Linked DNA regions of Homo sapiens. The protein of the gene in region 1 purifies or fractionates together with the protein of each later gene. This does not show direct contact. Each region holds a gene or a part of one and is shown on either strand. Other genes may lie near its edges.

Region 1 (3,500 bases):
TAAATATTAACCGTTTTAGTACTCTACTGGGATTACTTGTTGCTCATTATGAAGACACCTTTTGACCTACTCTGGCCTATAGTCATGATTATGCCACACTGAAAAGGGCACTTATAAGGTATCATAAGACACCAGAAAATCCCAAAAGACCTCTCTAAATTAAAGAAGTGTTTAAATAAACAACCTGATTTCTTGTGCTTTATATTTCCAAAATTTGCTAATACATGATATGATCAGGTTCCATTAACCAGAGTCTATGATTAACCAAATCTCTTACCCAACTTTCTGAGTAAAATCTATTACAACAGTTCCCCCAAATCTGAGGAACTTTAGCGCTATTCCATAAAACTTGAAGGATTCCTCAGGACAAAGGGTAAAAGGCAAAGTAGGGAGTTTCAAAACACACACACACACACACACACATACACACACACATGCACACATCCACAAACACGCACATACATACACACACAATGCACATAAACACACACATACACACACATACATACACATACACACATACACACAAACACATACACACATACATGCACACTCACATACACACAAACACACACATACACTCACATACACACAAACACACACAAACGCACATACATACATACATACACACACACACACATACACACATATATATACACACACACATGCACACATATGAAAGCTGATAGGCCCCCGTAAAGAATAAATTGTAACCCTCAAGGAGGTCTGCCTATGGAACAACACGACGGGACATTTCAGGTGTAAACGCCAGAGAAAGTTGTCAGTGAGGTGCATCTGGCTTCCTGGTTGAAGAAGTGTGGAAACCTCCAATACGGGATCTTAAAGTAGCATAAGAGTTTGTCGGCATCAAACAACTGAGCCAAGCATAGCTTATGTTGATTTCCCACTTCTGGCTGGACTTGCTGCTTGCAGACACCTGAGGAGTGGCTTCCTCTCTCCTGTGAGGCTGGTTCTGAAGTACTGTACACCCCAGCAGAGGTGACAGCCACAGTACCAGCCCTCCACTGTCCCATGTAACTGGGACATCAAAGCTGCCAGCCTTCTCCATCAATCCCTGCACCCCGGAGGCAGGTCAAATCCAGGAAAACTCTAAACGAAGCTTTCAAGTACCCCAAATGGTGTCTCCTCCATCTCAGTCCTGGCAGGGAGCCATCACTGCAGAATGTCACCTGATTTTCCAGCTCTTTGGTTCTGGCCCACTGAGAGTGATTTTTCCTCCTGAATTCAGCCCAGGTAGGGAGTAAGTCACACAATTGCATATTTAAAAGCTGAACTGAATTCTTATTTGGAGAGCAAGGAATTAGCCGGGTTCAAGCAGTGGCTATCGCTTGCCTGCTGTACCAATTTTTTATGAGAAAGTGTCTTGATAAAACATGCAATGCTAATAATGAAAGCCCCTTTGGGGCCCAGGAGAAAAGGGAGATTCAAACGTATGTCAAAAACTGAATGTGAATGGAAGGAAAGATCACACGCACGCACACACACACACACACACACACACACCCCTTTAAAAGGTAAACACAAAAGCAACATCTGGCTAAATGTATCCCTTTGTCAGTGAAAAATAGCAGAAGCCCTAGCCAAGTGTGTTACCAATTCTTAAACTGAAGGGTAAAAAAAAAACACCACAGAGCAGCACTGTCAAACAGAACTTTCAGCAATGATGAAACTACTATCTGTGCTATCCAATTCAGTAGCCACTAACCACACGTGGCTCTGGGCCACTTGAAATGCGGTGAGTGAGACGGAAGGACTGAATTTTAAATTTTCTTTTCTTTTAATTCATTACATTTAAATGTAAATAGCCACATGTAACTAGTGGCTACTGTATTGAACAGTTCAGCTGGCAACGTCTTTCTGTTCCTTCAATAAAATTGTAATCCTAATCAACCAATAATATTTTAAATTATCATCAAAATTAGTATAAGCCCCTGGCTGTGCCAAACTCAGTAAGCTTAAGACAAAATGAAAACAAACAAACAACAACAAAAAAAAACTAAAGAAAATGATTGCAGTGTATCATTTCCTGTAACGCTGTTCTGATTATCTAATTTACATTTCTATTATAATATGGCTTTGTGTATTTGGAAATCCGTGATTGTAGACAGATTTTGCCTTCAAAAAACCAGAATGTCACAGTCTCTTCCCTTAAGGTCTTAGAAAAATGAAAACGTGAACTTAGGGAAAGTTAACCTTGCAAGCTTCAATTTCCTCAGGGCTGAAGTGAAGATAATATAAGTACTCGCCTCTCATGAGGATTAAATTCAGATAATGCGTGCAAAATGTACAACAGTGCCTGGCAAAGGGTAAGCACTCAGCAAGTGGCAGCTATAATTATTTGTATTTTATTAACAATATTAAAATCAGTAATAAAGAGAACAGTGTTAATACAATGAAAGTTTACACTGAACAAAATTTTCCTAGGCCCAAACCCTTTGAATGTGTTTTCCAAGCCATGGTAAAGTGCCCTCGAGTAAAATACATCCTGGGGCCCTGACATCTTGACACCCACTGTCAACCTCCAGAGAGGCGATCACCCAGATGGGTATCACGAGTCACGAAATCACTCAGCCAATGTTTACTGTGTCCCTACCCTCTGGCAGGCACTGCGCTAGGCTTTTAAGGAGGAGGGAACAGTCCCCAAACACAGTGCAATGTCTCAAGACTGAGCTGTCTGCCATCTGACTCCTGCAAAGCTTGGTCAGCCCTGGGACACCTTGATGGGATGCAAAACATGCATCCTGGGGTCCCACTCAGACAGAAAAGTTCACTTCCCGTTTCCTAGATCAGCCAAGGCAAGCTTTGGCTGTTGGCACCACAGAGAGGGACTAAGTTATTAGGGGACCCGAGGGGCACAGGCCCATTTTCCCAGTCAGGACAATAAGAGGGGTGTTGACAGGCCATGTTTCTCACTGAGAGGCCAGATCACTTTCACAAGAGAGTCATTCTCTGAGTCTTAACAAAGCCAAATCTGACCTGCCCCTCAAAATAAACACAACCCCTTTCAGTAGCCGGCTGACCAAGCCGGTGAAATCCAAGGGGACTCTCCACCAAGTTAATATCAACCCTACCAATAGACCAGAAATCCCCCGGGAGTTTCTAGGCAGAAGCTTAGTAAAATTCTGTGGGGCTTGGGGTTATTTTTCTTTTTATAGAAAGCACTCAATCAATCTTCTTTCACAACCAAGGGTACATTCCCCTATGGAATTCCCTTCTCTGAAAATCTCTAAAAATAAAATATTCATCTGATCGTCTGCAATGATTTAAGTTTAAACCCATTTTCAGGCAGAGTCAGGGACTTCCTATGGCCCCTCCACCTATAAAAACATGTTCCCCACTGCCTCAGATTCCCTCTGGCCCCAGAAGAACACTAGTCAAACCATGCTCTTGACTTTAGGATAGGAAAGACAGGGCTGTAGTATCTGGAATCTCATACTTGTATTCTTTGCTGGTGAGACTGTAAAATGGTATAACCATGT
Region 2 (3,500 bases), on another chromosome or scaffold:
GACTTTGATTTTGGCTTCTGCATCCCCAGCAGTAGGAACACTTGTGAACATATCTATGAGTTTCCCCAGCTTTCGGAGGATGTCAGTATGTATCCCCTGACCCTTACAGCACTCTAGATTCTGAGGGCTACAAGGAACAAACCTTGAAACCCATCTGGTCCAGCGCCCTGGCATTGTCTCGTGGCAGTGCTGACATGATGCGTATCTAGTCATTTGACCTCAGGCTTCTCATTTCCTATTGCTCCTGGCTCCTGTTCTAAACTCTGACTCGGCCCGTATGGGAGCAATGAAGGGTTTGTTTGTTTTTGTTTTTGTTTTTTTCCCCTGAGACAGAGTCTTGCTCTGTCTGTTGCCCAGGCTGGAGTGCAGCAGCGCGATCTCGGCTCACTGTAACCTCTGCCTCCCAGGTTCAAGCGATTCTCCTGCCTCAGCCTCCTGAGTAGCTGGGATTACACCACACTTGGCTAGTTTTTGTATTTTCAGTAGAGACGGGATTTCACCATGTTGGTCAGGCTGGTCTCGAACACTTGACCTCATGATCCACTCTCCTCGGCCTCCCACAATGCTGGGATTACAGGTGTGAGCCACTGCCCCCGGCCCTTTTGTTTTTTTCTTTTTTTTTTGAGACGGAGTCTTGCCCTATTGCCCAGGCTGGAGTGCAGTGGCGCAGTCTTGGCTCAGTGCATCCTCCGTCTCCTGGGTTCAAGTGATTCTCCTGCCTCAGCCTCTCGAGTAGCTGGGATTATAGGCACCTGCCACCATGCCCGGCTAATTTTTTGTATTTTTTGTAGAGACAGAGTTTCACCATGTTGGTCAGGCTGGTCTCGAACTCCTGACCCTGTGATCCACCTGCCTCATCCTCCCAAAGTACTGGGGATTACAGGCGTGAGCCACTGTGCTCAGTCTGAAGGTTTTTTTTTTTTTTCTTTTTGAGACGGAGTCTTGATCTTGTCACCCAGGCTGGAGTGCAGTGGCGCAATCTCGGCTCACTGCAAGCTCTGCCTCCTGGGTTCATGCCATTCTGCCTCAGCCTCCTGAGTAGCTGAGACTACAGGTGCCCACCACCATGCCCGGCTAATTTTTTGTATTTTTAGTAGAGACGGGGTTTCACCGTGTTAGCCAGGATAGTCCCAATCTCCTGACCTCGTGATCCGCCTGCTTCGGCCTCCCAAAGTGCTGGAATTACAGGCTTGAGCCACTGCGCCCGGCCGGTCTGAAGGTTTTAATAATACAGGCCATCCTTTTAGATGCCTCCTGTGGGAAGACAGTGCCTAAGGGAGATAAAAGGAGGCCTGTGACCATCCCTGGGACGCTGATCAGATAAAGCACCTCTCCTGTGCACTGTTAGTCATGGTTTTCCATTGTGTTTTAGTCATTGGCCCTTCACTTTTTTCTTAATCAGAGCTAGATGTGAAACTGCAGGCTAAATAGAATCAAGGCCAGAGGACTTCTTTTCCATTCCCTGCAGGATAGAGAGTTGATTGGATAAAGTGTTGAGATAGATCCAGCAGGAAGGAATGGGGCTGTTGTAGATTTTGGGGCAGGAGTGAGAAGGTGGAAATACTGTTTGAGGAAGAGTGGCCTAGACCTGGGGAGGGCACCAGAGGGAGAAGGCTGCTGCCGTGTAGCCTCGGCAAGGGAAGATGGGGACCAAACGAGAGAGAAAGAACAGCCCTTGTCAGTTTCTGCAACTTTGGCCTAGCCACCTCAGGTTCGCATCCTTTGTGAATAGTTAGGGAAAATTCAAGTCATTTATGAGGGTGTGAATAGAATCCTGTGACTAGTGATGCCTGTAGTTGCCTTGCTGGCATCACTGATTGGTCCTCTCAGAATCCCAGGTCCTTAAGAATTGTCATATTCTGAAAACCAGATAACCTTTAATCGTGTGGCAGTACAGTTCCCAGGTAAAATGAGGATTGCTGAGATGTGGGGCAGGGTGTTGACGACAGCATCTGGTTCTGACTTGAACCCCTCTTCCCAAGCTGGCTAGAATATGTAGATACTTGCAAGAAAAGATGATGTATAGTGTTATAAGTTTTACCCATGAAGCCAAATCAGCCTGGAGGGCAATATTATGCATATAAACCGAGTAGTTTTGGCATTGGTGGGTTCAAAGAACTTTAAAAAATCAGTTTCACTTTTTGAGAACTGTGGTGAGCAACAGCATTTCCTCCAGGGGACTCCAAATGGCATGTAATCATTAACTCAAAACTGATCAGAGGTAGTATTATCTTTATTCTCCAGTATGGTTAAAGACTCAAAATGGCATGTAATCATTAACTCAAAACTGATCAGAGGTAGTGACTGTTAATTATCTTTACTCTCCAGTATGGTTAAAGAGGTCTGGGCAATTGCCTGAACAAACAAGACTTTACTTTAGATCCCAAGACAGGCAGACCTATTGCTGAATCATTTGCGAGTTAATACCCAGAAGGTCTCCGGAGAAGGCTCCCTGCCCTGTGTTCCTTGCACTCATTCCAATCTAGGTTTCCTTGGGTTGTCAGGGTTGTGTGTGGAGGTGGGCACAGTGAGGCTCAGATTTCTGAATTTGGAGTGGAATGTCTAGAGGTGGGCCACTGACCAGAGGCCAGGGCTGGCTTTGGTCAGCTGAGAGCACTGAGTAAATAGGTTGGTGGGGTCCATGTTGGGAAGAGGGGTGAGCACATTTCCCTGGTATCTTGGCTGAAGAATCCAGGCTGGAGATGACAGAGGAGGCCATGGTGGAGAGTTGATTGCATCCTTATGTTGAAATGGAGATCATGTTCAGCTGGGGGGCCTCTGTGGTCTCCCCAGCTGTCAAGGGCTGCCTCCCTCTGTTCTGACCTCATCGTTATTCTGGCAGAGTATACTCTGAAGCGCTGGCTTATTTTGGAGGGGATGCAAAGTTTTCTCCCACCTACCCTGTGGGGCAGACTCAAACATAATTCTTTGCTTTTTTCTTCCCCCTTTGCCTGACTTGCAGTTCGTCTAATGATTGAAAATCCTTACGAGACCCGCTCTGACAGCTTCTACTTTGTTGACAACAAGCTGATAATGCACAACAAGGCTGATTATGCCTATAATGGAGGCCAGTAAGTGCTGCAAGAGTAGATAGGGGAGGTGCTTTGCCGCGGCCACAAGATCCTGGCACACGGAGATGATCGAAGCTGCAGTTTGTCAACACACATCTGGAACCTGGCCCCAGGAAGCCAAGGCTGGGGTGGCAGTTTCCTGCGCGCCAAAGGAGCTGCCAAACAGTGCTGTGTTTTCTTCCCCAGTATTTTTTCTTCCCTTTTTTTCCTGCCCCGTAGGTTGCAGAGGTACTATAGTAAAGTAAAAGGTTAGGATAAGGGTCCTGGAATCCAGATAAAAAAGTTTATTTTCCGTAGTTCTGGCTGCCTGTTGGTTGTCTTGACGACCAGGCATAGCTGTGCCTGGTGAGAAGGCTCTGGCCAGGCCCACCAGCAGGTCAGCAGCTCTTAAGGTTCCTGGGTGCTGTGGGAAGCTGAAAGGTAGGCCTC
Region 3 (3,500 bases), on another chromosome or scaffold:
CCTTTCTCGTCGATGGTCAGCACAGCCTTATGCACGGCCTGGAGGGGAGAGAAGCAGAGACACGTTGTAAGGCTGATCCCAGGCCTCGAGCAAGGCTCACGTGGACACCTCCCAGGAAGCGCTCACTCCCCCTGGACGGCCCTGGCCCTGCACATCCTCTCCCTCCCTGTCACATAGGCCTTGCTCCTCCTCAAGGCTTTGGCTGATGGGGCTGGCTCCCCTCTGTCCATCTTCCTGACAAGCGCCTCTCCCCCTGCTCAGGTGCACCCACAACTCAGAACAGGGAAGAGCATCGTCACTCCACGTCTGCCTCCAGGGCTCTCTCCTTTCTAGTACACGGCTTGAAGCTCCTTGAGGACACGGACCCTGGCAGTGACCTTCACAGTGCCCAGACCCCAAGATAATGCAGCCATTCATGGAACTGCAGTTGTTCATTGGTCGCCTTTAGTTTTCCAAAATAAGTGTCATCTTTAGCTGAAATCATTCATTAATTCAGACACCAAATCTCACAGATCGAAGGAGTCAGAAATTCCTTTGAAACAACTTAGCCCAAACCTTTCTGTGTCAGTATGGATAAATCAAGGCCCAATGTCTAGAAGGTCTTGGGCAAAGTTGAAATTCAGGGTCAGTGACACAACCTCAAGGGAGGCCCCGAAAGTGCCAGCTGCACAGCAGTCCCCTGCCTGGCTTTGCTGTTTGACCACGTCCCGTGTCAGTGAATCACGGGCATCTTCAGGAGCTCAGCCTGGGTCTTCATTTGTTTCCCTCGGCCCCTTCCTCAGCCTCAGGACAGAGCTGCAGCCCCCACACATTCTTCCCTACAGATACCAGGGTGCAACAAGGTCGTCAGGGTGATCTCACCTTGGAGAGCTTCAGGGGTGCCTCCTCTGTGACCCCGGAGAGGTCAGCCCCATTGCTGAAGACCTTAGTGATGCCCAGTTGACCCAGGACGCTCTTCAGATCATAGGTTCCAGTAATGGACAGTTTGGGTAAATGTAAGCTGGCAGACCTGTCGTGCAGAAAAGAAATTCAAGGCATGGCACAGCATTCCTCTTGTTCTTCTGGGACCCACCACAGTGCAAGTGTTTTCTTTTCTGATTATTTCTGCCACTTACTCCTGTGTCCTCCACCCACACTAAGATGGGAACTCGGCTTTGGTTTGTTCTACTTTTAGCTCTTCTACATTGAGTCAAAGAATGTTAACATCGAATGAATCACAAAAGCTTGAAATGCCACCTCCTCTGATATTCTAGGTGTCCTGGAAGCCTGTCTCATCTTGCCCTGTAGTGTTGGGTCACCTGGCCCCCAGCCTGTAACATCCCCAGGGCCCTACACCCAGAGAAACACGGGGCTGGTGGCAGTGCCCAGTGACAACCGTTTAGTGGATAAGAGAAGAGTGACCACACCAGGCTGAGTGCTCCTCTCTGGTTTTCCATGGGGAGACAATGCCACCCTGAGCAGGGTCTGGTGTGAGCGGGCAGCTTGGCTCTGGGCTCTCTGATCCGTTACCCTCTCAGCCTCTTTGTTCTTTCTCAACCCCTGGAGCAGAGACCTCAGGAGGTGCTGGCATGGAACAGAGAAATTCCAGCCTCGATTCCTATTATGAACCCGACACCTTTTGTATTTTCATCTTGGTTTTACAGTGTACAAAACGAACTAGATCAGCAGGGCATGGGCATAATCACGAATGCACACACATACACTAATGTGTGGCTCATGTTTAAGTATCACTTACTACAGGACACCCAATCTAACAGCACCGATAAAGTGACAGAGAAACGCAAGCCTTCTGCGAACATGGCCTGGCTGTTCCAATTCCGAACCTTGCTTTTCTGGGCCTTGCCACACAGGCTCTTCCCCCGTCCCCCCAGGGACATTCTACCCTTGAACTCCACACTCCACTGCTGCCTTTGCCAGGAAGCCCATCTGTTCCTTTTTGGTTCTGCCAGAACGTGTGGTGGTGCTGCTGTCCCTGCCCTGGGCACTGGATATTGGGAAGGGACAGTGTCCACACTGGAGTGGGAAGTCCCCAGGGACGAGACCTTTACCTCCTCACCCCTGGGTACTGTCCTCCTCATGGAGCATGGATGGCGCTGCCTGAACTCAGTGGTGGCCTCATTCTGGAAGCCAAGTTTATACAGAGTAGCAGTGACCCAGGGATGTGGGGTTCACCCTCCTCAGCCCTCTGGCCAGTCCTGATGGGCCTCAGTCCCAACATGGCTAAGAGGTGTGGGCAGCTTCTTGGTCACCCTCAGGTTGGGGAATCACCTTCTGTCTTCATTTTCCAGGAACTTGGTGATGATATCGTGGGTGAGTTCATTTTCCAGGTGCTGTAGTTTCCCCTCATCAGGCAGGAAGAAGATGGCGGTGGCATTGCCCAGGTATTTCATCAGCAGCACCCAGCTGGACAGCTTCTTACAGTGCTGGATGTTAAACATGCCTAAACGCTTCATCATAGGCACCTTCACGGTGGTCACCTGGTCCACGTGGAAGTCCTCTTCCTCGGTGTCCTTGACTTCAAAGGGTCTCTCCCATTTGCCTGGAGAGAGGGGAAGGTGGGCATCACCAGGGGTGAGTGAAGGTTTGGAAGAGTGTAGCAGAATAAAGAAACCATGAGTCCCCTCCCTGAGAAGCCCTGAGCCCCCTTGACGACACACATCCCTCGAGGCTCAGCTTCATCATCTGTAAAAGGTGCTGAAACTGACCATCCAAGCTGCCGAAAAAGATTGTGTGGGGATAATTCAAAACTAGAGGAAGATGCAGAATTTCTACATCGTGGCGATGTCAGGCTAAGAGATGCCATCGTGGCTGTGCATTTTTATTGGAATCATATGTTTATTTGAGGGTGTCTTGGATATTACAAATAAAATGTTGGAGCATCAGGCATATTTGGTACCTTCTGTCTAAGGCTCCCTGCCCCTTGTTAATTGGCAGCTCAGTTATTCATCCAGGGCAAACATTCTGCTTACTATTCCTGAGAGCTTTCCTCATCCTCTAGATTGGCAGGGGAAATGCAGATGCCTGAGCAGCCTCCCCTCTGCCATACCAACAGAGCTTCACCATCGAGGCATGCAGAGTGGACAGGGGCCTCAGGGACCCCTGATCCCAGCTTTCTCATTGGACAGAAGGAGGAGACTGGGGCTGGAGAGGGACCTGGGCCCCCACTAAGGCCACAGCAGAGCCAGGACTTTAGCTGTGCTGACTGCAGCCTGGCTGCTCTCCACTGCCCTCCTTTGCCTCAAGAGCAAGGGAGCCTCAGAGTGGAGGAAGCAGCCCCTGGCCTTGCCTCCCACCTCCCCTCCCCTATGCTGTTTTCCTGGGACAGTGGGAGCTGGCTTAGAATGCCCTGGGGCCCCCAGGACCCTGGCATTTTAACCCCTCAGGGGCAGGAAGGCAGCCTGAGATACAGAAGAGTCCATCACCTGCTGTATGCCACACACCATCCCCACAGTCTTTGTCATTTGTTTAATCCTAAAAAAACCTGACAGCAAGAATGGTAT
Region 4 (3,500 bases), on another chromosome or scaffold:
CAACATGTGGGAGGCTGGTGCCTGAGGAGAAATGGGACAGCCTTTGTTCCATAAAAGGAAAAATGTCTCATTAGCAATTATTACTCACTGGTATTACAGGGATGTGAACATATAACAGTGGCTTGTGGGAGGGCTTTGGGTGGAAATAAGAGGAAAGAGACTGGGTTCTGTATGTGAGTTGGTGAGGGCAGACAGAAGAGATGCCAATCAGTGTGAATGAGGGGAGGAACAGGAAGAACCTTAATGGAAGATAGAACTCAGAGCCAGGAGAGACCATGGGAATAAAAGCCTAGGGACACTTGTGACATCTTAGAGGATAGCGGTGTTGGACATCACAAAAGCCATGAGCTGGCTATGGTCCTTAGCTCATATCTAGCTCATGTCCACCTCTACAGACCATGAATATTCAGCTAAGATTTGCCCTGGATTCAGTGTCTGTCAGGCTGAGGATTCAACTGTGGGTGTTCTGACTCTGAGGCTGCCTAGGCTCTCAGTGTTGCAAAGGTAAAATTCCATGAAACTGCCTCTGGTACCTCTAGCTATCACAAACCTGAAATGCAGCCTGACTCCTAGCCAGGCTGACATAACTCCTCTCACTAAAGGCCTATTTACCATAGTAAAGAGAAAGAGAAAATCTTGAAAGAGGTAGAGGTAGAGGCAGAGGGAGGAAAACTCCACCTTATCTAAAAAGGAATAAGGATGAAAATGACAGCAGACTTCTCATCAGAAACTATGCAAGCAAGGGAAGAATGGAGTAAAATATTTAAAATGTTGAAAATTCCATGAAACTCATTCTTTGGGAATCATGACATAGGCCCATGATTCGCACGCATTTAGTTGGGTACAATTATTTTCCTCCCCTAGAACAGGGGTCAGGAAACTATAGCCTGTAAGCCAATACAGCCATAGCTTATTTTTGTGTGTACCTAAAGCTAAGAATGGTGCTTATATTTTTCAAAGGTTGTAAAAAAAATGAAGAGGAAAGAGAAGATGAAGAAGATGCAGAGGAGGAAGTCAAAAAGAAGAATCTGCCCTCATGTGGACCACACAGCCTAAAATACATACTACTAGGCCCTTTATGGAAAAAAAATTGTCAATCCTTTCTCTAGGTTGTGGGCTCCACAATCTTTCACCTCCATTCTTGGTTTTAGGAGATGCTTGGTAAAAGCTCATAAAGTCACAAACGGCTTTACTTTAGGGGTTAAAATGAGGGAGCAAAAGGAATTTTCAAATGGGCCCAGGTCAACTTTGAATGTTTAATTATTTGCTTTTCTGGACGGCATGTCTCCTACCTAACAAATGGCAATACCACCATCCACCTTTCAGAGCCGCTGCGAGAATTAAACGAGGTATTGCATGTGAATGGCTGGTGAGAGTAGCTGCTCAATAAATGGGAGCTTCTTTCCTTTCTTTCTTTATTTTGGTTTTTCTTTCTGTAATTGCAATGAGAGCCAGCTTCTGGGTGGCCCTACATTCTCTTGTGCCCTCATCTTCCTTCTTGACACTTCCCCACCTTTGGGCTTTCTAGGACCAAAATAACTGTCCATCTTTCCTTTCCCCTCCCCAAAGACCATCTCAGCTTCTCTGGTCCCTGCAGCCTCCCAACATGGAATGACTGGGGACAAATGTAATTGTAAAGATCCCTTGGAGAAAGGACCCATCTCAGGGTAGGAGATATTTCAGTTGAACAGGTGTCCCCGTTACCAATTGCAGCAGCCATTCAGGGGCTTCTGTGGCCTCCATGTGAGGGCAGTGCCATGGAGCACCTTCCCATATTACCCAGGGCACCGAGCTCCTTTGGGGCCTTTCAGCTGGCCAGATCTCCAGCATGGGTCCCTGCCAGAAAGATGGGCTGCCTCTGGGGACCCTGACTGCTGCCTTGTATGCCAGAATGGGGAGAGAGATAGGTTTGGTGGATGAAATCACCACCCAAGCTCTACAAGCCTTTAAATCTTCTCACATCTGCTCCCATCTCCCCCCATTTCTGTCTGCCAGCCACCAAGTTTTCCAATTTTGCCTCCTTAACATCTTCTGACATCCTCAGCTGTTCAACTGAGGGCCCGAATGTCTGGTTAGTCTAGTGTCTTTAGTATCTGATCTCTGCTTGACTCAACTTTCTCTCTGCTGTAACGGCCTTCGCTTCTTATTCTATCTGGATTTAAGAGAAAAGACGAAAACCGTTTTCTAGGGGAAACCTTCCTTTCTTGAATTCCCATCTTCTGCCCCTGGTTGGATGCCCCCACCCCCTTACTTTCAGCTGAATACATAGTTCTAGCATCACTGGGTGAGTCAATCCTTGCATGCTCTTGGGTCCAGTGGGTGCAATGGAAGAGGAAGAGCAGAAAGGGAGGGAACAAGCACTCCAGGGTTCTGAGCTGGGACTGTCTCAGCCTGAAGCTCATGCATGCTCGGTCCCCTCCACCTTCCACAGGGCTGCCCCAGCAGTGACCAAGCCCCGTCACATACACTGTATGTAAACCAGGCTGAGGCAGGGAGCAAAACTGGCACCTGGAGAGTGAGGAGAGGTCAACAGAGGAAGGGGAGGGGCCCTGCAGGTCTCCACTCCAGGAGGACCAGAGCACTGAACAATGAGGGGGGTGGGAGCTTCCAGGGGAGGCTGGAGACATGGGGCCACCTCCACTGCCCACCTGTTTACCACCTGCCTGTTTCCCATTGTTAGAGGCAGGTGGGGAGGGGAAAGCTAGGCTGGCTACTGTGTCCTGGAGGGGAGAGTCCTAGCATAGGGCTAGGTAGTAGGAGGCGAGAACATGGGAAACTCAGAGAACAAATGGCACGTGAGGCGTGGAGTAGTCTTAGAGGGAGATCTGGATCCACGCCTTCATTTACAGATGAAAACCCAGGCCCAGGAGGGGAAGTGGCTTGCCCAGGAATCAACCAACAGCTTCCAAGCAGGACTCTGCCTCCAAGCAGCTCATGTCTCCTAAGCACCTTTCCACCCTCTGGCTCAGTGATCACTCTTTGTGTCCCTATCTCTTTTTTTGTCCCCATCTGGACTGTGGGCTCCAGGAGGCAAAAGCTACCGGCTTGCACTCTGCCCCTTCGGAGCTTGCAGGCTGAGGTTTGCATTGGTTGAGTTTCTATCAATGGGATTGGGCACTGGACCAGTTAGAATCTGGCAAAGGGTCATGTTTTGTATACTGCCCACCCTTGAGGCTCTTCCCCAGATGGGAACAATGCCATTTCTGCCCTCATTTGTTATGTGTCAGTGACATATTTTTTAAAATAATTAAAGATGATAGCAGAGTAGAATCATAGAATCTTGGAAGTGGCCAGGCTCCTTGGGGATTATCTTGCCCTGTGAAGATGGCCCCAGCCCCACCTGGCCACCTCCAGACACCAAGGCCCCTGGCTGGAATGTGCTCCTCCCACATGTGCAGGGCAGGAGCCCCAGGTGCATCCAGACAGAGGGACTTCCTGGCCTAGTCTAGCAGCACCCCTGCAAGGAGGGAGCTCTAGCTCCTACGCGCCCTGGAGTGGTT

The links.
Region 2: the proteins of RFTN1 (region 1) and UNC119B purify together in Homo sapiens (co-immunoprecipitation; one large-scale study listed by IntAct). This does not show direct contact.
Region 3: the proteins of RFTN1 (region 1) and SERPINA1 purify together in Homo sapiens (co-immunoprecipitation; one large-scale study listed by IntAct). This does not show direct contact.
Region 4: the proteins of RFTN1 (region 1) and SERPINA3 purify together in Homo sapiens (co-immunoprecipitation; one large-scale study listed by IntAct). This does not show direct contact.

What each region holds. Positions count from the first base shown.
Region 1 is NC_000003.12:16,507,200-16,510,699, forward strand, and holds part of RFTN1 (raftlin), read right to left. Parts: intron 1-3,500. UniProt on the Homo sapiens protein: Involved in protein trafficking via association with clathrin and AP2 complex.
Region 2 is NC_000012.12:120,716,958-120,720,457, forward strand, and holds part of UNC119B (protein unc-119 homolog B), read left to right. Parts: coding exon 1-85; intron 86-2,962; coding exon 2,963-3,075; 3' UTR 3,076-3,500. UniProt on the Homo sapiens protein: Myristoyl-binding protein that acts as a cargo adapter: specifically binds the myristoyl moiety of a subset of N-terminally myristoylated proteins and is required for their localization.
Region 3 is NC_000014.9:94,378,603-94,382,102, forward strand, and holds part of SERPINA1 (alpha-1-antitrypsin precursor), read right to left. Parts: intron 2,540-3,500; coding exon 2,269-2,539; intron 1,010-2,268; coding exon 862-1,009; intron 39-861; coding exon 1-38.
Region 4 is NC_000014.9:94,615,391-94,618,890, reverse strand, and holds part of SERPINA3 (alpha-1-antichymotrypsin precursor), read right to left. Parts: intron 1-3,500. UniProt on the Homo sapiens protein: Although its physiological function is unclear, it can inhibit neutrophil cathepsin G and mast cell chymase, both of which can convert angiotensin-1 to the active angiotensin-2.